5 separate regions of the Homo sapiens genome follow, and regions 1, 2, 3 and 4 are each linked to region 5. Evidence: fine-mapped expression QTL. A gene starts in region 5. Each other region holds a variant in brackets. All regions are shown on one strand. Distances are from middle to middle. Region 1 has its middle 21 kb from the start of TRC-GCA1-1. Region 2 holds the start of ZNF212 (zinc finger protein 212). Region 3 overlaps ZNF398 (zinc finger protein 398). Region 4 has its middle 5.8 kb from the start of TRC-GCA1-1. Region 5 holds the start of ZNF783 (zinc finger protein 783).

The links. PIP is the estimated chance that this variant, and not a neighbour inherited with it, causes the effect.
Region 1: its variant is fine-mapped to the expression of ZNF783 in B cells (Fairfax 2012, PIP 0.95). The same link has a PIP of 0.9 or more in monocytes.
Region 2: its variant is fine-mapped to the expression of ZNF783 in skeletal muscle (FUSION, PIP 0.93).
Region 3: its variant is fine-mapped to the expression of ZNF783 in tibial artery (GTEx, PIP 0.99).
Region 4: its variant is fine-mapped to the expression of ZNF783 in whole blood (GTEx, PIP 0.99).

Annotation. Positions count from the first base shown.
Region 1 is chr7:149,286,856-149,291,992 of GRCh38, forward strand. It overlaps the pseudogene LOC155060. Among named protein-coding and RNA genes, the nearest start is that of TRC-GCA1-1, 21 kb to the right of the region's middle. The variant CT/C (reference allele first, on the strand shown) is at 2,129.
Region 2 is chr7:149,239,649-149,244,747 of GRCh38, forward strand. ZNF212 (zinc finger protein 212) reads left to right here and starts at 3. Exons shown (of 5, transcript NM_012256.4): 1 at 3-154. The coding sequence starts at 131. RefSeq lists an enhancer at 1-64. The variant CTTT/C (reference allele first, on the strand shown) is at 2,373.
Region 3 is chr7:149,161,296-149,166,428 of GRCh38, forward strand. It overlaps ZNF398 (zinc finger protein 398), which reads left to right. Exons shown (of 6, transcript NM_170686.3): 3 at 4,863-4,989. It also overlaps the pseudogene LOC100420549. Among named protein-coding and RNA genes, the nearest start is that of ZNF398, 16 kb to the left of the region's middle. RefSeq lists an enhancer at 156-305. The variant C/A (reference allele first, on the strand shown) is at 2,180.
Region 4 is chr7:149,301,845-149,306,981 of GRCh38, forward strand. No RefSeq gene overlaps it. Among named protein-coding and RNA genes, the nearest start is that of TRC-GCA1-1, 5.8 kb to the right of the region's middle. The variant C/G (reference allele first, on the strand shown) is at 3,083.
Region 5 is chr7:149,259,992-149,264,991 of GRCh38, forward strand. ZNF783 (zinc finger protein 783) reads left to right here and starts at 2,205. Exons shown (of 6, transcript NM_001195220.2): 1 at 2,205-2,366. The coding sequence starts at 2,343. LOC124901769 (a long non-coding RNA gene) reads right to left here and starts at 2,350. Exons shown (of 2, transcript XR_007060582.1): 1 at 1,656-2,350. RefSeq lists a silencer at 1,803-2,672.

The sequences.
Region 1 (5,137 bases), 27 kb after region 5:
GTATTCCTTGTAATGTTTCTTTGTTCTTTCCTTTTCTGCTTTCAACTTTCTCTGGCCCCTGTTGCCTGGCAGCTAGGAGGGTGGAGACCACCCTGGGGCTGGTTGACAAGGCACCTGGATCATGGGGATGTGGTATCAGGCGGGGCAGGAAGTCACACCAGTAGATGTCAGGGTGGATGGGCCTTAGAAATCACCAAGGCAGAACAACAGGCCTTTCTCCCCTTGAGCCCACTAAGGGGTGTGGGCTTGTTCTAGAAGAAGGTGAGGAGTCAGATTGCTGCCTGGGTGTGTGTGCACTGGACCCCAGGTCCCCTGGCAGGTGTTCTGGACTTGGGCTTCTCACCATTTCTTGGCTCCTGCTGCTGGCCGTGTTCCCTAGTTGGTTGAGTAATTGGCTGAGTAAATAGAGCCAGTGAGTGGTAGAGCTGGGATCCACTCTCTGTTCATTTATGATGGTAATGTTAGTTATGTCATTTTCCGTTGCCCCGGCTCTTGGTTCAGGATTCTTCTCGTGGGGGCTTTGTGCGGTCCAGTGTCTGCTGTCTTTGACTATTAGGTGGGGTCTGTTTGGGGGTCTGACCAGTGAGGCCGCCTGGCACTCAGAAGACGTCTCCCCCATTCCGGAGAATCCTGACCTTCCTGTATTTGGGAATGGCTCTGGGCTGCTCTCCTTCTGGTGGCTGACTTGCGAACTTGTGTCTGGTTGCAGGACTGGCATTGCGGACTGACCTCCAGGGAGAGGCCCAGATCTGATCTGCAGAGATCTCCCTTCCGGCTATCGTGGCTGCTGTTCAGGTGGTGGAGAAGAAGATGGAACCCCAGGCTGCCTGGCTACAGAGCCTGGAGGGATGCATGTGGACAGCCAAGAAGAAGCTGGCTGACTGCGAGAAGGTGGCTGTGGAGTTCGGGAACCAGCTGGAGGCAAGTGGGCCGTGCTGGGGACCCTGCTGCAGGAGTACGGGCTGCTGCAGAGGTGGCTGGGGAACGTGGAGAACCTGCTGTGCAACAGGAACTTCTGGATCCTGCAGTTGCCCCCGGGCAGCAAGGGGGAGGCCCCCAAGGTACAGGAGCTGGGTGTAGGAGGAGAGGCCCTGCCTGGACTCTGTAGGGTGGCCATATGCATAGCGTCGCCACAGCAGCATACCCTTGGCTGCTGAAGCCTGACCTCTGGGCGTCCAAGGCAGTCACTAGTTGACTTTAAAGGGCTTGAAAAATGTCAGAAGAAAATTGTGACACAGAAAAATGTCTGCTTTGGAAGATGGAATGGGGTTTGTTGGGAGAGATATGGTTGTGCAGCAGTGGTTGTACATGGTCTCTGAGAGTGAGGACTGGCACAAGTAGGAGATATGTGTGCCTGGGAGAGGGGAGAACCCAGGAGCCCCGATCCTAGATCCCATTAGTCACTGGTTCTGCCCTTTAGCTGAAGGCAGTGTGATGGAGTTGAGTTTGCATTTGCTTAGTAGTTTGGCCTGCGATGCCCTCTGCTTCGGGGGAAGGGAGAGGGGACGAGTTGGTTTTGGCTGCTCCGTGAAATGGTTGTTATTCATGGTGGGTGCAGGCAACTTGTACTTCCAGGTGCCTGTGACTCCTGAAGACACGGTCGGGTATTTCTCAGAGCAGCAGGGTGGCGGCCTGGAGGACTCATAGAAGGAGTTCTGCAAATGTGTTGTGAAGGGGAGCTGCGACACCCTGAGCTTCCTGGGTGAGAGGCTGGCCTCTGGGGGCCTCCACACCTTGGTTTTACTCCTTTATTCAATCACATGAGACTCCTGAATCTCAGAGCAGGAAGCATGTGGAGATCATTTCTTCAGCCCTCTGTCTTCAGGCAGGTAGAAGGTATCTGTCATTCTCATTTTGAAGTTTTATGTAATGAAATGCAGAGGTTATGTGACTTGTTCCAGATTTCTTGGAGTAAATAAACTGGAATCTGCTCCTCGCTGTCCTGCCCTTCGCGTGGTGCCAGAGGCAGCTCCTGCGTGCACACCTGTGGCTCACCAGCCTATCTGCTCCTGGGGAGCTGGGGCCTCCCCTGGTTTACATCTGCATCTCTAGGACTCCCACGCTGCACTCTGCACACTGAGTTCTCAGGAGATTCCTGCTGAGCAAAGAAGGATGAATTGTAGGCCTG[CT/C]TTTTTTTTTTTTTTTTTTGAGACGGAGTTTTGCTCTTGTTTCCCAGGCTGGAGTGCAATGGCGTGATCTCAGTCACCACACCCTCCGCCTCCCGGGTTCAAGTGATTCTCCTGCCTCAGTTTCCTGAGTAGCTGGGACTACAGGCATGGGCCACCACACCCGGCTCATTTTATATTTTTAGTAGAGACGGGGTTTCTCTATGTTGGTCAGGCTGGCCGCGAACTCCCAACCTCAGGCGATCCTCCCGTCTCGGTCTCCTAAAGTGCTGGGATTACAGGAGTGAGCCACCAGGCTTGGCCAGGCCTGCTTTTAAGGATGCCCCAGGTCCAGAAAATCAGGGCCAGGCCTGGGAAGTTCGCTCCTTCAGGCAGGTGTGCGTCTTCGTGTGAGACTTGATCAGACCTGGGTTTTTGTAGCTACCCCACTCCGAAGCTCTCCTGCGTGAACCTGGAATTCTCACTGCTTTGGGCAGGTGAGCAGTTGGCTTTTTGTCCAGTCTCTCCCCTTGTTGGGAGGCTGAGGCCCAGAACACAGTGCCTTCCCTCTCTTTGCCTGGCTGCAGAGGTTCCTCCTTCAGAAAAGGGTCCCAGTGTGCTGTGGGAGGCAGGGTGAGGAGGCTGTCCGGCCTCAGGCGAGGAAGGAGAAGCACGTGGAAGGAAGGGCAGCAGGAAGCCTGAGCCTGACTGCCATGGATGGCCAGACCCACTCTTGGGCCTCAGTTTCCTCATCTGTCTGGACTAGGTGACTTGTCTATGTGGGCAGTGGATGGGAACCCTTCCTCTTGGCCTCATGGCACTCACTTCTAGCCCACGAAAACTGAGAGGCCTTGCCCACCCTACTCTCCATGCCCCTCAACACACGCCTTGAAGAGGCTGCTCCAAGCCTAGCAGAACACCCTCCCTTTCCAGGCCTGCAGAGGACAGCCCTGCCACTGCCCTTTTCCTCCCCACAGGCCAGGCCACCACCAAGCCAGATCTGGCACCAGTGGAGAAAGGAGACAGGCAGGCAACTGCAGCCTGCCCAGTGCGGAGAGGGGCCAGAGCCCGGGCACTGGTGAGTCCCTCAGGGTGTGGGCCTGGGCCTCTCCACCTGCATCTGGTAAGGGCATCTGGTGTCAGAAGGCCCCCTTGGAGAAAGAGAGGCAGAGGTGGGGGGAAGTGAACTGCTGGGCCTCACAGCTGGTGGTCAGGGCCAGACCCGGGTGTTCTGACACCCAGAGAGGGCCTGGGCCATTTCCCATACTCCATGTCCCTTTGGAGCCATCGCTTGGCCTGAGACCAGTCTGGAGGCTTGAGGGGAAGGGCAGAGGGCATAGCAGATACCAGGAACCTGAGACAGGCCGTCTTGGTGCATGCAGGGTTCCGGGAGGAGCGACGGGCTGGCGGCCTCCGTGAGACCTGCCCTGACACTGCATCTGCTCCCAGGGCCCTTGGTGCCTGCGTGCATGTCCTCCTCACTTTGCAGCCTAATCCCTGCTTCCTCTCCAGGCTTCACTCTCCTTGGGTGAAGGGACTGAGTCTTGCTGTGTTATCCCCCTCCTCTAGCACCTTACACAGTGCCTGGCATGTACTGAGATTATAAATAATATATAATTACTAAATGAACAGTGAACCAGAATAGAAGCTCAGTTTCCTCCATTTTTCAAATAATAGCATTGGATCAGAATGCAGTTTTTTTTTTTTTTTAAAGGTGAGAACCCTTTATTCCAGTGACAACCAGAAACATATAACATGGGGACAATGGGACCATTCTAGTTGAAGGACAGGAACCCTGGAGCTGGTTGCTCAGAACACAGTGGATCATGCCAAGATACTGCTGCTTGCTTTCTAGATTCTTAGATTTGGGGAGGAAGGCTCCCCTGTGAAGCAGACTCTTTGAGTAGGTAAATTAAGTCACAGTGAGCCCAGAGTGGGGAAGAAGGTGGGGGTTGACAGGGGTACTGAGTGGCTGGCATGTAGGTCCAAGGCTAAAAGTGGCATTTCCAGGCACCTGCAGGGGGCAGGGGCACCAGAGAGAGAGCAGGGTTGAGTAAGGGGTGGGGTGTGGCAGGATGCAGGTCACATAGCCCAAGCTGGGGAGCCCTGAGCGAGAGGCCAGCTGGGCAGAGCGTGGCTCTTGTGGTGTCACTGAGCGTGGCTCTTGTGGTGTCACTGAACGTGGCTCTTGTGGTGTCACTGAGCGCTATTACAGCAGCAGCCTGGCCAACAGCTCCTCCCCTGTGGTGCAGGGAGGGGAGCTGAGCCCAGGCACTGCAGCCACCCCCGTCTTGGGCTGGCCCCCTGCAGCAGGTGTGGGCAGGACTGGGGCATGTTCAGAGGCTGTGGCCGGTGCCACAGTCCCCAGGGCTGAGCAGCTCCTAGGGGGATGCAAAGCAGCAGGCAGGGCCTGGCCAAAGAGCTGCAGGCACGGCTCTGCCATGAGGCTGGGCTTGCACCTGAAGGCAGCTCAAGGAAGCGTGGTGGGTGGAGGAATGAGACCTGCTCAGGGGATTAGGGTTGCCCTACGGTCTGGGTAGTCCTTGCCATTCTAGCAGTTACTTCTTGTTTTCCATTCTCTGTAAACTTTTCCAGATTTCTCCAGGAGAGAGCTTTGTTTACCCCCAAGGACTGGGCTTCACTCCTAAAAGCTGCTTCTAAACCCTTTGCGTGCAGGCCCCAGACAGTGTGGGTGCATGACTGCTTTATCTGTTGGATGTTTCCACAGGCAGGCTGTTGCTGCCAGAATTCTAGAAGCAGTGTAAACGGGCTGCTCATTCATTAGGTACGGGCAGGGTCTGGGCACTGGACTTTCAACACTTTCCTCCCGTGATTCTGGTGCCGTTAGTTTGAAAATCACGGCTCAGAGATCCCTCTGAACAGAAGGTGACCCGCCTCTAGCCATTGAAAGTGTCTATGTTTTGATTATGCAAATGGATTCTTACACGAATATGTTCTTACTAAGCAATGTGGAGGTCATGGGTAAAGCTAAGCGGCTCTCTGCTGGCCGCCCACCCAACCCCAGGCCCCTC
Region 2 (5,099 bases), 20 kb before region 5:
CCAGAATGCACCTGGCATCAACACGGCGGCGGCGGCGGCGGCTTCCAACAGGCTCTGGGGCGCCGAGCGGACAGGAACGCAGCACGGGGGCTCCGAGGCGGGGTCTGGGTGTTGAGGGGCGACTGGAGCCATGGCGGAGTCGGCGCCTGCTCGGGTAAAGAGGCACCGGCGCGCTGGCTCGAGGGCGCGTTGGGGATGGCGGAGTCCCCTGCCGGGGGCGGGGCTTCGCGGTTTGGACGCCGCCGGGGTCTTGGTTTCCCGGGGCTGCCGTTGGCGCGGGTGAACGCGGACCCTCCTCTTCGCGACCCCAGTGCTCTGCCCTTTTTTCCCTCCGCTTCCTTCTGCAGCGGGGTCGGAGCCTCGGCGCCGTGCGCCCTTGCCCAGAAACTTCTCTGACGCTTGCTTTAGGTTGGTGGATTTGTGACCCTGCCCACACATTTTCTCTTTCGTGCCAAAAGAGCCCGTTCCCAGGTTGGAGTGTTTCCAGATTGGAAACGGTCTCCGTCGCTACGAGTGAGCTCTCCCGCTGCCCGGGAGACCCCAGGACTTGCCTCTCTGCGACCACCTCCTCTTCGGTCCGATGTGTTGTCGGTTTTTCCAGTGCTGCAGATTTCTGTCTGGGGGTTGCAGCCACAGGTTGAAGTCAGCCTGGGCTGCTTCTCCTTGGGGACGGATGTTATCTACAGTGCAGTTGCTGCATTTTGTTTGTAGAGCTGCCCAAACTCTCTCCTTCACCCCCCCCCCAACACCCCCCTCCCAGCCCACCGACCATCCCCATTCTGGGAATGTCAAGATACGGAGTTTGGTGTGAGGAAAATCCTATTTGTGGAGTCACGAAGCTTTCAGCTGTCCATTTGGGTGATTTTAGGCAACTGTGTTCGCTTCTCTGGGTCTCTTTCGTTTTCTTAACTGTAAATCGAGAGTGTTGGAGTAGTTGCTAGATGATCTCCAAGGCTTTAAGTTTCCTTCCAGCTCCGACATTCTCATACTGTTCCCATACTGTTTCAAAGTAGTGGTTAATTTAACAACACCAGAGGGTTTGCAACGGAAGGGGCAGCTGGAATTGAATTGACTTTTAATGAAGTGTTCCTTGGTCTAGAAACACTTCGAGAATCATGTTAGATCTTTGTGAGAATGGAGGGCTAAGGAAATTCTGTGGGGAAAATTTGACCATGAGCAGGGTGCGCTATATTTGATTCTTGTAGAAAGTGCGTTAAGAACTAAGAACGGAGAGATTGGGAGACTTAGAGAACACAGTATTTGCTTTCAAGGAAGTTAACAGTTGAATTGGGAAGACAAGACACAAATGTTTACAATATTAACCTCATCTGACTCCTATAAGCTAGGCTGAGCCAGTCAAAGACTTGGCTTTTCCACAAGATCTAGTTAGTGTTAGAGTCCGGCGAGAGGATTCTGCCACAGTTCTTCCTGCCAGGTCACTCCACAATTACCTACATGTCGTCAGTAGACCTTGTTAGGAAGAAGCCTTAAAGGTCCACCACAGGCCAGGCGCAGTGGCTCATGCCTGTAATCCCAGCACTTTAGGAGGCCGAGGAGGGCGGATCACGAGGTCAGGAGTTCAAGACTAGTCTGGCCAATGTGGTGAAACCCGGTCTCTACTAAAAATACAAAAATTAGCCGGGCGTGGTGGCGGGTGCCTGTAGACCCAGCTACTCGGGAGGCTGAGGCAGAATAATCGCTTGAACCTGGGAGGTGGAGGTTGCAGTGAGCTGAGATCGTGCTATTGCACTCCAGCCTGGGTGACAGAGCAAGACTCTGTCTCAAAAAAAAAAAAAAAAAAAAAGTCCACCACAATCCCAAACTATGCCTTAAATAACATGAATCTGTCGTTGTAGAACTTATTCAAATTGTTCTTGAGCCTGTTTCTCTTCTCAGACATTTCAGGTGTCTGTCATTTAACAGTAAGCTCAAGTAGGTGCCCTGATGAAACAACTGAAAATGCTGGAAAACCCTGCACATAAATGCATTTGAAATGTATTTTAGTAAAGAATACTTGGAGCCCCAAAACTTAAGCGAAAGAGGAAACTCGAAAGTGATAGAGTTCTGAAGCCAACTTTGAGGGCATTGGCCAAACATTCATCTTTGGTGTTTATGATTCAAGGGACCTGCAAAATGGAACACACATCTCAGAGCCTAAGATGGAAAGTCTAAGAAGCTCCCTAACCCAATCCCATGAAGCAGAGAGTTCAAAGGGTAACATTCTGTGTAAGGGTGAACTGAAAGTAAGGTCTGACCTTCAGATGATTGCAAAGTAAGTTGTTAAACCTTGGCACTGAGATTACAGGCGTGAGCCACCGTGCCTGGCCATAGTTTCGTTTCTTTTCTTTCTTTTCTTCTTTTTCTTTTCTTTT[CTTT/C]TTTTTTTTTTTTTTTTGAGAGAGTCTCGCTCTCTTGCTCTGGCTGGAGTGCAGTGGAGCAATCTTGGCTGCCTGAAACCTCTGCCTCCCAGGTTCTAAGCGATTCTCCTGCCTCAGCCTCCGGAGTAGCTGGGATTACAGGCATGCGTCACCATGCCTGGCTAATTTTGTATTTTTAGTAGAGATGGGGTTTCACCGTGTTGGCTGGGCTGGTCTCTGAACTCCTGACCTCAGGTGATCCACCTGCCTCGGCCTCCCAAAGTGCTGGGATTACCACTGCATGAGCCACCGCACCCGGCCTAAGGCAGAGGGAATTCTTAAAAGCAACCAAAAAAAAAAAAGACTACCTTGAAATGAAGTACAGCAAAATGAATGGGGGCCAGCTTCTCAACAGCAACCATGGAAGCTAGGCAAAAGTAGAATGATATTGTCAATAGGCTGAAAGAAAGTAACTGTGGTCCCATAGTTTTATATGCAGCAAAAATGTTTCAGAAACAAAGATGTAAAGAAGACATTTTTAGACAAATTAAAAATGACAGTTTGCTACCAATACACTCTTAGAAAAGGAAATTCTAAAAGATATACCTCAGGTAAAATGAAAATTTTCCCAAATAGAAAGTCTGAAAATATGAGAAGATGTGATGATGCATGGAAATGGTTAAATCTAAACAAATAGTGACTTAATAAAACGTAACAATTTCTTGTTGTGTTAAAAACAATTAAAATACATGATGGCATTGATGTAAATATGAGGAAGAGATGATCAGAACTAAAGTGTTTAAAGGGCTTTGTTAAAGGGCCTTCTATGTATGTTTCCCATAATTTCTAGGATACTTGCTAAACAACTCGAAATTGGTCGTATAACTTACAGATCAGAAAGGGGGATAATGGAATAAGAAAAAATTAATGTAAAAGAAGACAAGAAAGTAGAGAAGAAAGATGGGATAAATAGCACAAAAAAGGTAAAAATAAATCAAAGCTAATGAACAATTACAATAAATGTAAATGAATGAAATGTTCAAGTTAAAAGGCATAGATTGTCAGGATGGGGGAAAAATCCAACTAGATGGTTTAAAAGAGTTACAACCGGCTGGGCGTGGTGGCTCACGCCTGTAATCCCAGCACTTTGGGAGGCAAAGTTGGGTGGATCATGAGGTCAGGAAATTGAGACCATCCTGGCTAACACAGTGAAATTCCGTCTCTACTAGAAATACAAAAAATTAGCCAGATGTGATGGTGGGTGCCTGTAGTCCCAGCTTCTTGGGAGGCTGAGGCAGGAGACTGGCGTGAACCCAGGAGGCGGAGGTTGCTGAGGCAGGAAAATCACTTGAACCTGGGAGGCAAAGGTTGCAGTGAGCCAAGATTGCGCCACTGCACTCCAGCCTGGGTGACAGAGTGAGACTCCGTCTCAAAAAAAAAAAAAAAAAAAAAAAAAAGAGAGAGAGAGAGAGATACAACTAAAAGATAAGGATATAGAAACAGTTGAATATAAAAGGTCATGAAAAAATATGCCAAGCAAATACTAATGAAAATAAAGTTGACAAATATATTTAGTATCTTTAGAGATAGAAGGCTCCTACTACTTTTGTAATGGTAAAAGACTCAATTTACCAGCTAGATACAAAATTTCTAAACCTGTATGCACCTAATTACATAGCCTAAAAATATATAAAACAAAACTGACAGAATTGCGAGAAAGATTCACTGTTATAATAGGAGATTTTAATACAACCTTAGTATTTTATCAAATAGAAAAGACTTATAAGGGTGTAGTGCATCCAGTAGAACTTCCCAAGATGATAGAAATGTTCTGCTCTGCACTGTTTAATACAGTGGCCACTAGGCACATGTGGCTTTTGAGCACTTGAAATGTTAGCTAGTATGATTGAGGAACTGAGTTTTAAATTTTATTTATTTATTTTGAGACAGACTCTCACTCTGTCACCCAGGCTGGAGTAGAGTGGTGCAATCTTGGCTCACTGCAACCTTGCAACCTCTGCCTCCCAGTTTCAAGTGATTCTTCTGCCTCAGCCTCCTGAGTATCTGGGATTACAGTCATGTGCCACCACACCCGGCTAATTTTGTATTTTTAGTAGAGACAGGGTTTCATCATGTTGGTCAGGCTGGTCTTGAACTCCTGACCTCAAGTGATCCGGCTGTCTTGGCCTCCCAAAGGGTTGGGGTTACAGGCACGAGCCACTGTGCCCGGCTAATTTTATTTAACCAGCCACATGTGACTAGTGGATATTATATTGGAAGCACAGGTACAGAAATGATTATTTTTATTTTTATTTTTATTTTTTTTCTGAGACAGAGTCTCTCTCTGTTGCCCAGACTGGAGTGCAGTGGTGCGATCTCGGCTCACTGCAAGCTCCGCCTCCCGGGTTCATGCCATTCTCCTGCCTCAGCCTCCCCAGTGGCTGGGACTGCAGGAGCCCGTCACCACGCCCGGCTAATTCTTTTGTATTTTTAGTAGAGATGGGGTTTCACCATGTTAGCCAGGATGGTCGCGATCTCCTGACCTCATGATCCGCCCACCTTGGCCTCCCAAAGGGCTGGAATTATGGGCGTGAGCCACTGCACCTGGCCAGAAATGATTTTTTTAATCCATATATCTATCAGTATATAATATCAAAGTGTAGAGACAAAATGAAAACAAAAGAGAGGAGGCAAAAATAAAAACCTATTGGGAATGAAAATGTGTGCATTCCCATGTCTATTGGT
Region 3 (5,133 bases), 99 kb before region 5:
GTAATTCCAGGGCTTTGGGAGGCTGAGGTTGGAGGATTGCTTGAGGCCAGGTGTAGGACACCAGCCTGGGCAACATAGCCAGACCCATCCCTACAAAAATTATGTTTCTAAAGATTGACTCGCCATAGTGGCATGTCACTTCCTGACTCGTCCCAGCTACTCAGGAAGCTGAAATCGGAGGATGACCTGAGCTCAGGAGGTCGAGGCTATAGTGAGCAATGATCACATCACTGCACCCCAGTTTGGATGACAGAGTGAGACCCTGTCTTAAAAACAAGCAAAACAAAACAAAACCAAAACCAAAAACAACTAGTTACCAGATTCTGAATGCCTAACATACAAGCATACAAGGTGGCAGGATGAGTACATAAAGTCGCAAAAAGTACTCAAGTGCCTATTAAATGAAAAGCAAACATACCAGGAAAAACTTCAGCTCCTGCTTGAAGAACTAAGAGGGGAATTAGTAGAAAAGCTAAGGACTTAGAAGAAATGAAGCTGCAGGTAATTAACTCCAAAAAAAAAAAAAAAGGGGAATTGTTAAAAGCCCAAATACAGCAAGAATTAGAAACTCCAGTGTTTTTGCAATTGGGATGAAGAAGTGGAAAAGTATAGAGCTGCAAGCTTTGCTATAAACATACATTTCTTAAATAGAATCTGAAACACTAGGAAGAAGAATTTACATGTAGTTTAGAAAAAAACTCTAAAATTTGAATTAGAGATTTATTTTTATTTTTACTTATTTATATATTTTTCAAGACAGGGTCTTGCTCTCGCCTGGGCTGGAGTGCAGTGGTGCTATCTTGGCTCACTGCAGCCTTAAGGCTCAAGTGAGACTCTTGACTCAGCCTCCCGAGTGGCTGGGACTACAGGTGTGCATTACCACAGCTGGTTAATTTTTTTTTTTGAGTCGGAGTCTCGCTCTGTCGCCCAGGCTGGAGTGCAGTGGCGCAGTCTCGGCTCACTGTAACCTTCGCCTCCTGGGTTCACGCCATTCTCCTGCCGCAGCCTCCCGAGTAGCTGGGACTACAGGCGCCTGCCACCACGCCTGGCTAATTTTTTTATATTTTTAGTAGAGACAGGGTTTCACCATGTTAGCCAGGATGGTCTCGATCTCCTGACCTCGTGATCCGCCCGCCTCGGCCTCTCAAAGTGCTGGGATTACAGGTGTGAGACACTGTGCCTGGCCCCACAGCTGGCTAATTTTTAAATTTCTTTATACAGACAGGATCTCACTATGTTGTCCAGGCTGGTTTCGAACTCCTAACCTCAAGTGATGCTCCTGCCTTGGCCTCCCAAAGTGCTGAGATTACAGGCATGAGCCAGTGCACCTGGCCTGAATTATAGATTGCAAGACTGGGGAAAGATGTAGAACTATATAACCAGCTGCTTAGTGTTGATCCCACAAGAGGCAACAAATGAGTAGAGGAACTTGTTTGAGAAAAAGTCCATTTGTTTCAGAAATTAAAATAATTCATAGGCTGGCTGGGCACAGTGGTTCACGCCTGTACTCCCAGCACTTTGGGAGGCCGAGGTGGGCAGATCGCCTGAGGTCAGGAGTTTGAGACTAGCCTGGCCAACATGGCAAACCCCTGGGTGGGGGGAGGGGGGCGGCGGAGGTTGCAGTGAGCTGAGATCGTGCCATTGCACTCCAGCCTGGGCAACAGAGCGAGAGTCTGTCTCAAAAAATATATATATATTCATTCAGAGGCTGAAGTAGCAGATTTAACGGCTGAAAAAGAGAATTCTGGTGCTCAGTTAGAAAACGTCCTAAGAATACAGGTGTGACAGTTGGCTGAGATGCAGTTACAGTCAGGTCCCAGTAGGCCAAAAATGTCACGTAAACTGTAGGTTAAATGCTCGGAAAAAGAGCCACAATCAAACAATGAACAAAATACCTGTTTTGTTTGTTTGTTTGTTTGTTTTTTTCAGACAGAGTTTCACTCCTGTCGCCCAGGCTGGAGTGCAGTGGCGTGATCTCAGCTCACTGGAACCTCCGCCTCCCAGGTTCAAGCGATTCTCCTGCCTCAGCCTCTTGAGTAGCTGGGATTACAGGCATGCGCCATCATGCCCAGCTAATTTTTTTTTTTTTTTTTTGAGATGGAGTTTTGCCCTTGTCGTGCAGGCTGAAGTACAATGGTGTGATCTCGGCTCACCGCAACCTCCGCCTCCCGAGTTCAAG[C/A]GATTCTCCTGCCTCAGCCTCCCAGGTAGTTGGGACTACAGGCCTGTGCCACCACGCCCCTGGCTAATTTTGTATTTTTAGTAGAGACGGGGTTTCTCCATATTGGTCAGGCTGGTCTTGAACTCCCGACCTCAGGTGAGCCACCGCGCCCGGCCAAGCCCAGCTAATTTTTGTGTTTTTAGTAGAGACAGGGTTTCGCCATGTTGGTCAGGCTGGCCTCAAACTGCTGACCTTGGGTGATCCACCCGCCTTGGCCTTCCAAAGTTCTAGGAGCCACTGCGCCTGGCCAAAGTACCTTTTTAATCATTAAAGATTACATAAAACTGAACAAGAAAGAAATACCCTGACCAGGCTGGGAGTGGTGGCGGTGGCTCACGCCTGTAATCCCAGCACTTTGGGAGGCTGAGGTAGGTGAATCATTTGAGGTCAGGAGTCGAGCCCCACCTGACCAATATGGTGAAACCCCGTGTCTACTAAAAATACAAAAATGAGCCAGGCGTGATGGTGTGCACCTGTAATCCCAGCTACTTGGGAGGCTGAGGCAGGAGGATTGCTTGAACCCAGGAGACAGAGGTTGCAGTGAGCCGAGATAGCGTCACTGCACTCCAGCCTGGGTGATGGAGCAAGACTCCATCTTAAAAAAAGAAAGAGGGCCGGGCGCAGTGGCTTGAGCCTGTAATCCCAGCACTTTGGGAGGCCGAGGCGGGCAGATCACAAGGTCAGGAGATCGAGACCATCCTGGCTAACACGGTGAAACCCCATCTCTACTAAAAATACAAAAAATTAGCCGGGCGTGGTGGTGGGCGCCTGTAGTCCCAGCTACTTGGGAGGCTGAGGCAGGAGAAGGGCGTGAACCCGGGAGGCAGAGCTTTCAGTGAGCCAAGATCGCACCACTGCACTCCAGCCTGGGTGACAGAGCAAGACTCCGTCTCAAAAAAATAAAAATAAAAATAAAAAAAGAGAAAGAAAGAAATACACTGAGCACTAAAGTCAAAGAACGAAACTTTCAAGCATACTAGAAATAACAGCCATGAAACTAGAGGCAGCAAGAGTGAGCTAGAAAGGGAAAGGAAAAAGATTCAAAGTGAACTGGATGGTTTACTGTCAGACAATGAAATTCTGAGACCAGCTATTGAACACCACAAAGTGCCCTTAGTAAAAAAAGATCATATATTAATATGTAAGGCACCAGATGCCAAGGAAGAAGGTTGTAAAAGACTTCTGGCATTACAGGATGAAAAGCTAGAATTTGAAAACAAGTTAGCAGATAGAAAATGAAAGTGGATCATGATGTCTGCAAGCAATGTGAAAAGCATCAGTGTGAAAAGAAATTGTGGGAGGCCGGGCACGGTGGCTCACACCTGTAATCCCAGCACTTTGGGAGGCTGAGGCAGGTGGATCACGAGGTCAGGAACTCGAGACCAGCCTGACCAACGTGGTGAAACCCCATTTCTACTAAAAATACAAGAATTAGCGGTGTGTGGTGGCGGGTGCCCGTAATCCTGGCTACTTGGGAGGCTGAGGCAGGAGAATTGCTTGAACTCGGGAGGCAGAGGTTGCAGTGAGACGAGATCGCGCCACTGCACTCCAGCCTGGGTGTACAGCGAGACTCTGTCTCTAAAAAAAAAAAAGAAAAGAAAGAAAGAAAATGCAGAGGAAGAAAAAAACGAAAATTTTGACCTGGAATAGTAAATCAGTAGTTTTCAGATCCAAGTTACCTCACTTGCAGAGTTCGAACCGAATGCTGAAAGAAACGATGGAGACATTAAAACAGGAATGCTGAAATATAAGAAATCAAGCTGAGAAAGTCTAACTAGAAGTCAAAAAGACATTGGAAAAAGAACAGACACAGCAGTTAGAAGAAAAGCATATGCTTCATGAATGTATCTCAGGGAAATGTACAGTCAAGCTAAAGAGAAATTGCAGTGAGCTGCAGTTGCCCAGAAAAACAGGAAATCTTGCCGTGAAAACAATTGAAGAGATGGCAGGACAAGGTGTAAATCTTGGAGGCAGGTAGAGAAGAAATGGAAACAGAAAATTGGGTTTTAAATAGACAAAATGTTCCATTTGAAGAATGTACAAAGCTTCAGAAAAGACTAAAGGATACACACAGAAGACATAATGAATTTTGAAGTTTAATTTTGGTTCCTAACATGCCTCCAAAATCAATCCTGTTTGCTCTCAGTCATCAGCCATGGTATTATCCTTTCCTCCTCATGTGCACGATGAACAGCATCAAAGGGAACTCTGTACTTGGCAAAAGACTAGAGGAACTAGAAACAACACAAAGAAAACAAATAGAGGAATTTGGATCTCCTGGAGAGTGATGTTCTTAGAGAAAAGGCATTTTAAAAGAGGTGAAATCAAAGACTCAATAAAGCTTGAAGTTTTAACATACATGGTATTTAGATATTTTATTACTGCTTACCAAAATACTCGAATGTGCCTCAAGAAAAGGTACCAGCTTTATTTAAGGGACTCGTGCTGTATTGCATGAGTACTAGGATTTTAGGATTTTCTAATGACAAGTGAAGCATTAAAAGAAACCATTTCAGAGATATTTAGAATATTTATTGACCACCCTTTGAAAATGTAAAAAAAATAAAAGGAACTAATTGGAAAGAGATTTATTGAATGACTGAATTATAATGGAAGGGACTAACCCATGTGATTGTAATTTTAGGTGCCTGTGGCATTTGATGATGTCTCCATCTACTTTTCCACTCCAGAGTGGGAAAAATTAGAAGAATGGCAAAAGGAACTTTACAAGAATATCATGAAGGGCAACTACGAGTCTCTCATCTCCATGGGTGAGGCTGAGTTGACACCTTTTGAATGAAGTGACAGCAGCTCCAAGAGGGCTCAGAACAGTCCCTTTTCCTCCAGTGACCTCATTCTCACTCTGTCTTCACACACTTCAAATTCTGGTTTCAAGCCAAAATATGACCAATTAA
Region 4 (5,137 bases), 42 kb after region 5:
TGGTACTTGAGAGGTGTTAGTATCACCTGTTCCAGGCACTGCTGAATAGAGCAGGAGTTCCAGACAGAGTCCTGCTCTTTTACTATGAAATCACAGTGCAGTTGGGGGATGTGAGTTTATGTATTCAATAATTCATTTCAGTAGCATTTTCCATGCTAAGTCCTGTACATTAGATATATCAAATATGCGGGATCTGCAGTGAGAGTCCATGCTCTGAGATGTGTGTGAACGTGCATGCGTTAGATGTGTGAAGGGCTTGAATGGCTCGAATCCAATACAAAGCAGCAATAATGAAATAGACTACACGTTGATGTGGGAACCCGGGAGAAGGGTAGACTGGCCGTCAAGAGAGTCAGGGATGAGCTCACAGGAGCATGACGCTTGTGCTCGGTCTCAAAGAATGAGTAAATGTCTTCAGGGACTCTCCAAGGCGTGAATCCCGTCCAAAGGCCTCAGCCACCCACCTCCGCCGCCACCTCTGCTACCATCCTGCCTCAAACATCATGCTCCACAGCCAGGCCTTCCCCTGGCTCCCTGCACTGCCCACTGGGGGCCTCCCTCATGGCCAGGGTAAACGGCCCATCTTTCTACCTGGCCACGCTGGCCATGCTTCCAGGCCTCTGCTCTCGCTGGTCCTCTGCCCGAGAGCCCTTCCCTTCAGACATTCGCATGGCTTGCTCCCCGCTCCTTTCAGATCACTTGCAGATGTCACCTCTGAATGCTCCATCTAAAATACCACCCTACTTGCTGCTGGGGCCCCTTCTCTTTCCCCCACTCTGCCTTATGTGTCTTCACAGCACAGATTTGCACCTGACATTAATTATTTGATTATTATCTTTTTAAAAAAATTATTTATTTTTTGACACTGGGTCTCCCTCTGCCACCCAGCCTGGAGTGCAGTGGTGTAAACACAGCTCACTGCAGCCTCAACTTCCTGGGCTCAAGCAATCCTCCTGCCCCAGCTGTCAAGTAGCTGTGACCACATGCACATGCCACCACACCTGGCTAATTTTTGAATTTTTTGTAGAGATGGGGTCCCACCGTGTTGCCCAGGCTGGTCTTGAACTCCTGGACTCATATGATCCTCCTGCCTCTTGCTCCCAAAGTGCAGGGATTACAGACGTGAGCCACTGTGCCCTGCCTGTTTGATTATTATCTACTCCATGAGAATGGGGATGTTGTTTTGTTCCTGCTTGATGCCCAGTACCTAGAATAATGCCTGGCACATAGTAGGTGCTTACTAAATATTTGAATTATGAAATGAGTGTTTTGTGTCTGTTTCTACTAAAATGTAAATTCTTTGAAAGCAAGCACCATGTTCTTCATCTCTGCATCTATCCTGTTTAGCACAGAGCCTGGCACAGAGGAGATGCTTCATAAACATTACCTGATCTCTTCAAATGGCAACATAACATTCCACTAAGTGAATGCTGTTAACCATTCCCCTACTACTAGACATTTAGAGTTTTTTTTCTAGTTTTAAATTAAAAATAATACAGTGATAATCTTAGGTTTCTTATTTTTCATGGGTGTTTATTTATTTAAAATAGATTCTCAGAAGTGGCATGACTGAGTCAATATAATAAATACAATATTGCCAAAATTGCTTTCCAAAAGGGTTGGAGAGGATTGAAAATGTGGAAAATCCCATTTTACCCTTGCCATCTTAAAATGTTAGTGCTAGATAACAAACAAGCAGAAACAAAAACAAAACAACAACAAAAAGTACTGTGTTGACGGTATTGGTCAGCCCGGGCTGCTAAAACAAAATACCATGGACTAGGCAGCTTGAACAACAGAAATTTATTTCTCACAGTTCTGGAAGCTGGAAGTCCAAGATCAAGATGTGGGCAGATTCTCTCCTGGCTCTCCTTAGGGCTCTTCTTCTGGCTTGCAGACATCCTCAACATGTTGGGGAGAGAGGGAGAGAGAGTGGGAGAGAAAAGGAGAGAGAGAGAGAGAGATGTGGAGATGTGGTCTCTCTTCATGTAAGGGCACTAATCCCACCCTGGGGCCCCACCCTCATGACCTCATGTAAACCTAATTACCTCCTAAAAGCCCTACCTTCAAACAATATCACTTTGGGGATTAGGGCTTCACCATATGAATTTTGGAGGACACAGACATTCAGTCCATAACAGTAACCAAGAAAAGTTTCTGGAAGGCAACAGCATGACCAGATTCATTTTGTGTGCATTATGGGTTGAATTATTTCCCCCTCCCTTTTTTTTTTTTTGACATGGAGGCTCGCTCTGACGCCCAGGCTGGAGTGCAATGGCACAATCTCGACTCACTGCAACCCCTGCCTCCTGGGCTGAAGCAATTTTCCTGCCTCAGCCTCTCCAGTAGCTGAGGCCACATGCGGGTGCCACCACGCCCAGCTAATTTTTGCATTTTTAGTAGAGACAGGGTTTCACTGTGTTGGCCAGGCTGGTCTCGTACATCTGACCTCAAGTGATCTGCCCCGCCTTGGCCTCTCAAAGTGCTGGGATTACAGGTGTGAGCCACCACCCCCACCCCCCAACAAATTTATATGTTGAGGTCCCAAACCTCAGTACCTCATAATGTAACCATATTCAAAGATGAGGCCTTTAGAGAGGTGATGAAGCTAAAAAGAAGCTGTTAGGGTGGGGCCCCAATGTAAGAGGACTGGCGTCCTTATGAGAAGGGGAAGACACCAGGATGGGCACACACAGAGGAAAGGCGTGTGAGGACACAGTGAGAACGTGACCACCTGCACACCACAGAGAGGCCTTAGGAGAAACCAGTACCACTGACACCTTGATCTTGGGCCTCCAGCCTCCAGGACTGTGAGAAAATAAATGTCTGTTGTTGAAGCCATCCAGTCTGTGGCGTCTTGTTATGGCAGCCTGAGTGGATTCATGGTGGGTCAATTGCTGATGTTTTGGAGAGTGAACAGCTCATAGGACACGGTGAACCAGCTGCAGCTTCCTTCGGGCTGCGTGGAGGCTGCCGGCACCACCCCACAGGATTCTTCTCTGTGTGGATGCTCCTGGGGGTTTGCTGAACGCTGTGGGCCCCAGGAGGTACTAACTCTTTTTGCTGGCGGGAGAAGGCGTCC[C/G]TCCAGGGGCTTGGATTGGCCTTTATCTTTCCAGAAATATTTGCTGAGCCCGAGTCATGTGCTATGTGTTAGGTGATGGGGCTACAAGGCAAGTAAGGCAGGGTCCCCAAGGCTTAGACCAGCGGGGATGCCTGTAAGAAACAAATCACTACACTCATGCTAGAGTCAGTGTTTTGGGAAATTTAACGTAGGGTTCCTGGACATTGCAAGTATGTGTCCTTTTTAATTTGTATTTTATTATAATATACAGACAACTGGGTTTGGGAATCATATTACTCCTGTTTTTTTTTTTTTTTTTTGAGACGAAGTCTCACTCTGTCTCTCAGGCTGGAGTGCAGTGGTGCCATCTTGGCTCACTGCAAACTCTGCCTCCTGGGTTCAAGTGATTCTCCCACCTCAGCCTCCTGAGTAGCTAGGATTACAGGCACCCGCCATTATGCCTGGCTAATTTTTGTATTTTTGTAGAGACGGAGTTTCACCATGTTGACCAGGCTGGTCTTGAACTCCTGACCTCAGGTGATCCGCCTGCCTCGGCCTTGCAAAGTGCTGGGATTACAGGCATGAGCCACCATGTCCGGCCACTCCTAGTATTTTTAAAAAATATTGTGGGTGTTTTAGTATTTTATATTTACTTTTTGTTAGGAAAAAAGGTACATGTTTGTGTGGGAACATAGAGGCCCAATGGGAAGGGGGCAGAGAAGGAGATGAGGTGTGACCCCATCACAGAAGGGGTGACACCTAGGCTCCGGTGAGTTTTTGTTCTTGTTACATTCTCTTCCTTTTTAGAAAGGTAAGAAAATATTGACACAATAATATATCTACATGGTTCAAAATTCCAGTGGCACAGAAACAATGGTATCTCCTCTCACTCTTGTCCCCAGCCACCCATGTCCCCTCCTCGCAAGCAATTGATGTTCCCAGTTTCTTGTAGATCTTTCTAGAGTTTTTTCATGACATAAATGCAAACATGTCATCTCCCCTTTTCTTCCCCTCTACAAACAGTAGCAGGCTATGGCGGAAACACATTTTCCTTGCTTGCTTTTCTGTTTCTTCTTGGCAATCTTTCCCTATCAGTACATAAAGAGCATCCCCATTTGTAAAGGGTTGCCTGGCATTCAATTGTACGGCTGTATGTAATTTATTTAACAGTCCCCAGATGAGGGACAATTAGGTTGCTTCTAATGTTTTATAATTTAAAATGATGTGGCTACAGAATAACCTTGCAGACATCATTTCACAATTGTGTTTATAGACCTCTTAGTTTCTAGAAGTGTAATTCCTGGGTCAAAGTTATGTGCTTTTAGCATTTCAAAAGTTCTTGCCAGGTGCCTCCTTAGAGGTTGTATCAGTGTACACTCCTACCAACAACGCAGAAACATGCCTGTTCCCCATACACCCTGAATCCCTAGTGTGGTATCAGACTTTGTAGTTTTTAGCATCTTAAAGGAGTTTACCTGGAGGTCTTGGAGAATGAGGCTGGAGGAGGAGAGGGAGCTGGGGTTGCAGCTGTTGTGAATGAGGCCAGAAAGTCAGGGAAACTGGAATGGGAGGCAGGGAACTCTAGGCTCTCCAGTGAGCCGTGCTTACTCTCTGCTGCAATAACAACACTAGCCATCGTTTATGAAACATTTGCTATGGGTCAGGCACCACTCTAAGGCTGTAAGCCTGGAGTCAGACTCTTGTTCTGAAAAGGGCCAGATTGTACATGTTTGTTATTCTATAGGCAAAATAGTCTCTGTTGGCAACCACTCAGCTCTGCCTTTTTAACAGGAAAGCAGCCACAGACACCAAAGAAATGAACCAGAGTGGCTGTGTTCCAAGGAAACTTTATTTATGGATGCTGAAATTTGATTTTCATATAATTTTTGCATGCCACAAAATATTTTTTGAAGCAACAGCAAATATTTATTGAACACTTACTCTGTGCCATTAAAAAACAACAACAATTGTTTCATTTACTTTTCCCCAAGTCCCATGAGGGCCCATTTCCCATCCCCCCAACCAAGCCATTGAGAAGGGTAAAATCCATTCGTAGCCTGTGGGGCTGTGCCCCGT
Region 5 (5,000 bases):
TCTTGAACCTGGGAGGTGGAGGTTGCAGTGAGCCGAGATCGTGCCATTGCACTTCATCTTGGGCAACAAGAGCGAAACTCCGTCTTAAAAAAAAAAAGCCACCATGTAATTTTAATTTATATCAGAGCTGGCTTGACACCCCGGCTGGTCTGCTCAGAAACCACATTATGGTGCAAAGTGTTCGTTTATTAAATATATTTATAAAATCTGAGCATGGGAATGGGAGGTAGCTGTGGGACCCTGATAAACAGTGCCAAGGTTTTCGAACTGTGATCACCAGACCAATAGAATCAGCATTTCTTGGGAACTAGTTAGAATTGCAAATTCGCATCACTTTCATCCCCTCCTGTTTCAGACCTAGAAATGTTGAGGTTTGTGCCTAGCATCCTGTATTTTTAACAAGAACCCTCAGTGAACATGATGCACACTGAAGTTTGAGTACCACTGACTTAGAGAAACTTTTTTTCTAAAAAACGAAGACTAGCTGTCAAACATTATAGCACTCTTTCCTCAACAGAGCTCATTAAATCCTAGCATTTTTGTCTCCAGCCCATTTTCCTGACCCTTTCTTTCTTTCTTTTTCTTTTTTTTTTTTTTTGAGATGGGGTTTTGCTCTTGTTGCCCAGGCTGGAGTGCAATGGCATGATCTCGGCTTACTGCAACCTCTGCTTCCCGGGTTCAAGCGATTATCCTGCCTCAGCCTCCAGAGTACCTCACCACCACACCCAGCTAATTTTTTGTATTAGTAGAGATGGGGTTTCATCATGTTGGCCAGGCTGGTCTCGAACTCCTGACCTCAGGTGATCCATCCGCCTCAGCCTCCCAAACTGCTGGGATTACAGGCATGAGCCACGGCTCCTGGCCCATTTTCCTGACCCTTTCTGTTTGCATTGGACCTTAACTGTTATTCTATAACGTCACCATTTACTGGTATTTTATAATCCTGAATAGATTGGACTGATCCCTGATAAGATCCTAGGGATGCTCTTAATGTCTTTAGTGCATACTTGCAGTTTGTGTTTTAGATTGGGATAGTTCAACAAGAATTTCCAAAATGAATAATGCCAAATATTTATTTGATTTGTTACCTTAAAGTAACACGTCCTAACCTTTCCGCAAATTTTGGGGTTCACCTTACTTAGGATATCAGTTTGTGTTTTTTCTGATAGTTGACCACGCTTTTGCTTGGCTCAAATATTTGTGAAAATAACTTCTCACCCTCACCCCCCCCCCCCAAAAAAGAAAAAACAAAACCAAAACCAAAAAACCCCAAACAAACCCAAACACAGAAAGAAACAAAACTGCAGATTTCTAGCGGGAAGAGTTTGCCAGCTTGTTGGACAAAGACTGTGAGATGAATGGGAAATGCAGAAAAGACAGAAAACAAAGCTTCAACTGCATACAGCACATTTAGTTCAATATGCCTCAGCACAGGCCGAGGAAAATGGGTCCTGCGGTTTATTCAAGATGCCTCAGGGCCTAAATGAGGGATGGACTGATTCACACTTGCTGTGATCTCAGCCTGGACCAAAGCTACAGAAGGGTCCTCGTGGGTGGCTGAGGACTTTCACCAGGCGGGCCCCGGGAGGAGGAAGGGACCCCAGAGTCCTCAGGAGGGGAGGGCAGGCTTAGGAAAAAAAAAAAAAAAATCCTACCATCTTCACGTTTGTTCTGTCAAATTTAAAAGAGACTTTAAAAACGTTCATGTAAGTTTCCCTGGCTTCTCCCTGGGTACACACGTATCCTTTTTACTTTCCCCAACTCAGTTCTGTGGTGCGTGGGAGGCGCTGCAACAGAGTCTCGGTCCGGACTGGAGCCCCGGCGAGGGCCGACCCCGTTCCCCACGCAGCTTTCCCTCGCGAGGTTTCGCACTTTCCAGCGCGGTTCCTTCCCGCAGCCCTCCCGGCTCCCGCGTGGGACGCAGAGAGAGGTTGGGCGCCGCGCTGGCCCGGGAGTGGCTTACGCCTGACGTAGCCCCGCTGGAGGCCGTGGCACGCCCGCCCTGGCGTCAACTCCCGCGCCCCGGGTGAGGGTGGGTGGCCGCGCCTGGGTCCCGGACGCCGCGGGCGCTGAAGGCCTCGGGAGGGCGCGGGGCGGCGGCCGCGGGCGTGCGGTCCTACGGGCTGCAGGGGGCGCTGTGCGCGTCCTCAAGCTCGGCCGCCGAGCGCAGCTCTTTTTTAAAGGGCCAGCGGGGCACGTGGCTCGGGACGCAGTTCGCTGCCGCCCGGCAGTAGCTCTCAGGTTAGGCGGGTCCCGCTCCGCTTCCGCCGTCGCTGCCGCGCCGCCCCGGGCCCGACAGGCCGGGTCCAGGGACTGCAACCCAGCGAGGGACGCGGGCAGCCATGGCCGAAGCGGCGCCTGCCCGGGTAAGCGCCCTCGGCCCCGCGGACGCCCGGAAGGCCCAGGCCGCCGCCGCGTGAGCCCGCGCGAGGGACTCTGGCCGCGCGAGGCCGCGGGGTGAGAGGGCCTTGCGCGCAGCCTCCGCGCTCGTTGCCCCCGGCCCATCGCCCAGCCCGCGTCGAAGGCATTGACCGGGCGGCCCAAATGCCAGGCCCGGCGGGCGGGGCCCCGACGTCAGCGGCTGACGATCCGGCCCATCTGCGGCCTCAGCCAGGCCGGGCCCCAGAGTCACGCTCGGCGACGAGGAGGCCGCGCCTTAGGAGTATTGTCCCATTTGAGGCCTCGCGGCCCCCCCTACAGCAGGCTGGGCGGGCAGGGGCCGCCAGCCCCACGGGACAGTAGCGGAGGCTGAGATGGGAAGGGACAGGCCCAGGGTCACGCATCTATTAGAGGCGGGAGCCTCACGCCGGGGCAGGGATTTTGGAATTAGACACTTTAAAACGCCTCATATTCTACTTTTGCCAAAGAGAAAGATTGTGTCGTTTACAAGAGAGATAGTAGATTTTTTTAAAAAAGATTACTGTAGCAGATTTTATTTAATTTTTTTTTTTGAGAGGGAGTCTCGCTCTGTTGCGCATGCTGGATGGAGTGCAGTGGCACGATCTCGGCTCACTGCAAGCTCCGCCTCCCGGCTTCAAGGGATTCTCCTGCCTCAGCCTCCCAAGTAGCTGGGACTACAGGCGCCTGCTACCACGCCTGGCTAATTTTTCTATTTTTGGTAGAGACTGGGTTTCACTATGTTGGCCAGGCTGGTCTCGAACCCCTGACCTCGTGATCTGCCCGCCCCGGCCTCCCAAAGTGCTGGGATTACAGACGAGAGCTACCGCGCCCGGCCATTTTAAAATTTTTTAATTAAAAAAGTATATATATATACGTGTGTGTGTGTGTGTGTGTGTGTGTGTGTGTGTGTGTGTATATATATATATATATATATTTTTTTTTTAGACACAGTCTCACTCTCACCCAGGGTGGAGTGTAGTGGCGGGATCTCATCTCACTGCAACCTCTGCCTCTGCCTCCCGGGTTCAAGGTATTCTCCTGCCTCAGCCTCCCAATCCCAAGTAGCTGGGATTACAGGCGCAGGTGCCTGTCTCATTTATATCTATCTATCTATCTGTCCAGATACATATCTATATGAATAAGTTTATTCATAAGAATACACTATAAGTATTCCTATACAGAATTTTTCTCCTGGAGAAGGAAGAATCACATCAGTTTTTTTGGCATCTTCATCTATATAAGTTAGGCCAGTTTAGCAGATTTTAGAATCTTGGTTTGATATAGTGCAGTATGTCCAATTGGGAGATTATAATCCTTTGGCCATTTTTGACATACTGGAAAACGCTTGTAAAGGCTCAATAGATGATACCTACTATTATTAATACACCTCAGTGAAGGTTTTGAAACCTTGATTTTTCTGGATACTTTTATTAAAGTATAACTTCCTCTCCCTCCTCTTAGTGAGTGTGCTGAGCTTCTTTTTGGGTTCCCTGAGTGCAAGGGAGAGAAAAAGCGTTGAGGATTCTGCAGGTTTATAGTCCTGTTCCCTGGGAAGAGGGGGCCCTAGAAGGTGACATCATCCACTCCCCCTAGCCTGGGGCTCACTGCTTCACTACCTTTCAGATCACTCCTGTCCACCTGCTCCTCCCTTCTTGCAGCACTTGAGATCCCAAAAAACTCCCCAAAAGGGACAGATTTGCCCTGGACTCTTGTTAGCCCATCCTATCACACTGTTGTTGTTTATAAGTATTCCTATACAGAATTTTTCTCCTGGAGAAGGAAGAACCACATCAGTTTTTTCTTCATCTTCACTGTACATTTACTATGATAGGTGTTCAGTAATTGTTATTGAATGAATGAAGCAATTATAGATTACTAGTGCTAAGGGGGAGGGGCAGTGAAAATCTCTAGGATGCGTTGTCTATGCTAGAATCTTAAAAACGAGAGAGACTCAGGCATACAGAGGATGCATATTGAGAGCTGATGTGAAGTTGGAGGAGGGCCGGGTGGGTCCTCGGAATCCACAGGAGGCTGGCATGGCTGGAGCACGACAGGAACTGGATGGCTCAAGGTCAAGAGAGGTCGGCTGGGCCATGAAGAAGTCTAGATCTTATGCCAGGTACACTGGGAAGCTATTGAAGAGTTTTAAGCAGGGTACTGAAATGATCTATTTGTGTTTTTAAAAGATTACCAGGCCGGGAGCAGTGGCTCACTGACTCACGCCTGTAATCCCAGCACTTTGGGAGGCTGAGGCGGGCGGATCACAAGGTCAGGAGTTTGAGACCAGCCTGGCCAATATGGTGAAAGCCTGTCTCTACTGAAAATATAAAAATCAGCTGGGTGTGGTGGCGGGCGTCTGTAGTCCCAGCTACTTGGGAGGCTGAGGCAGGAGAATCGCTTGAACTTGGGAGGTGGAGGTTGCAGTGAGCCGAGATTGCGCCACTGTACCCCAGCCTGGGCGACAGAGCAAGACTCCGTCTCAAAAAAAAAAAAAAAAAAAAGATTAACAATTACTCTGTGGAAAGTGTATTGTCGGGGAGAAGCCTGGAAGTAGGGGAGAAGGCTGGAAGTGGGGGAGAAGGCTGGAAGTGGGGGAGAAG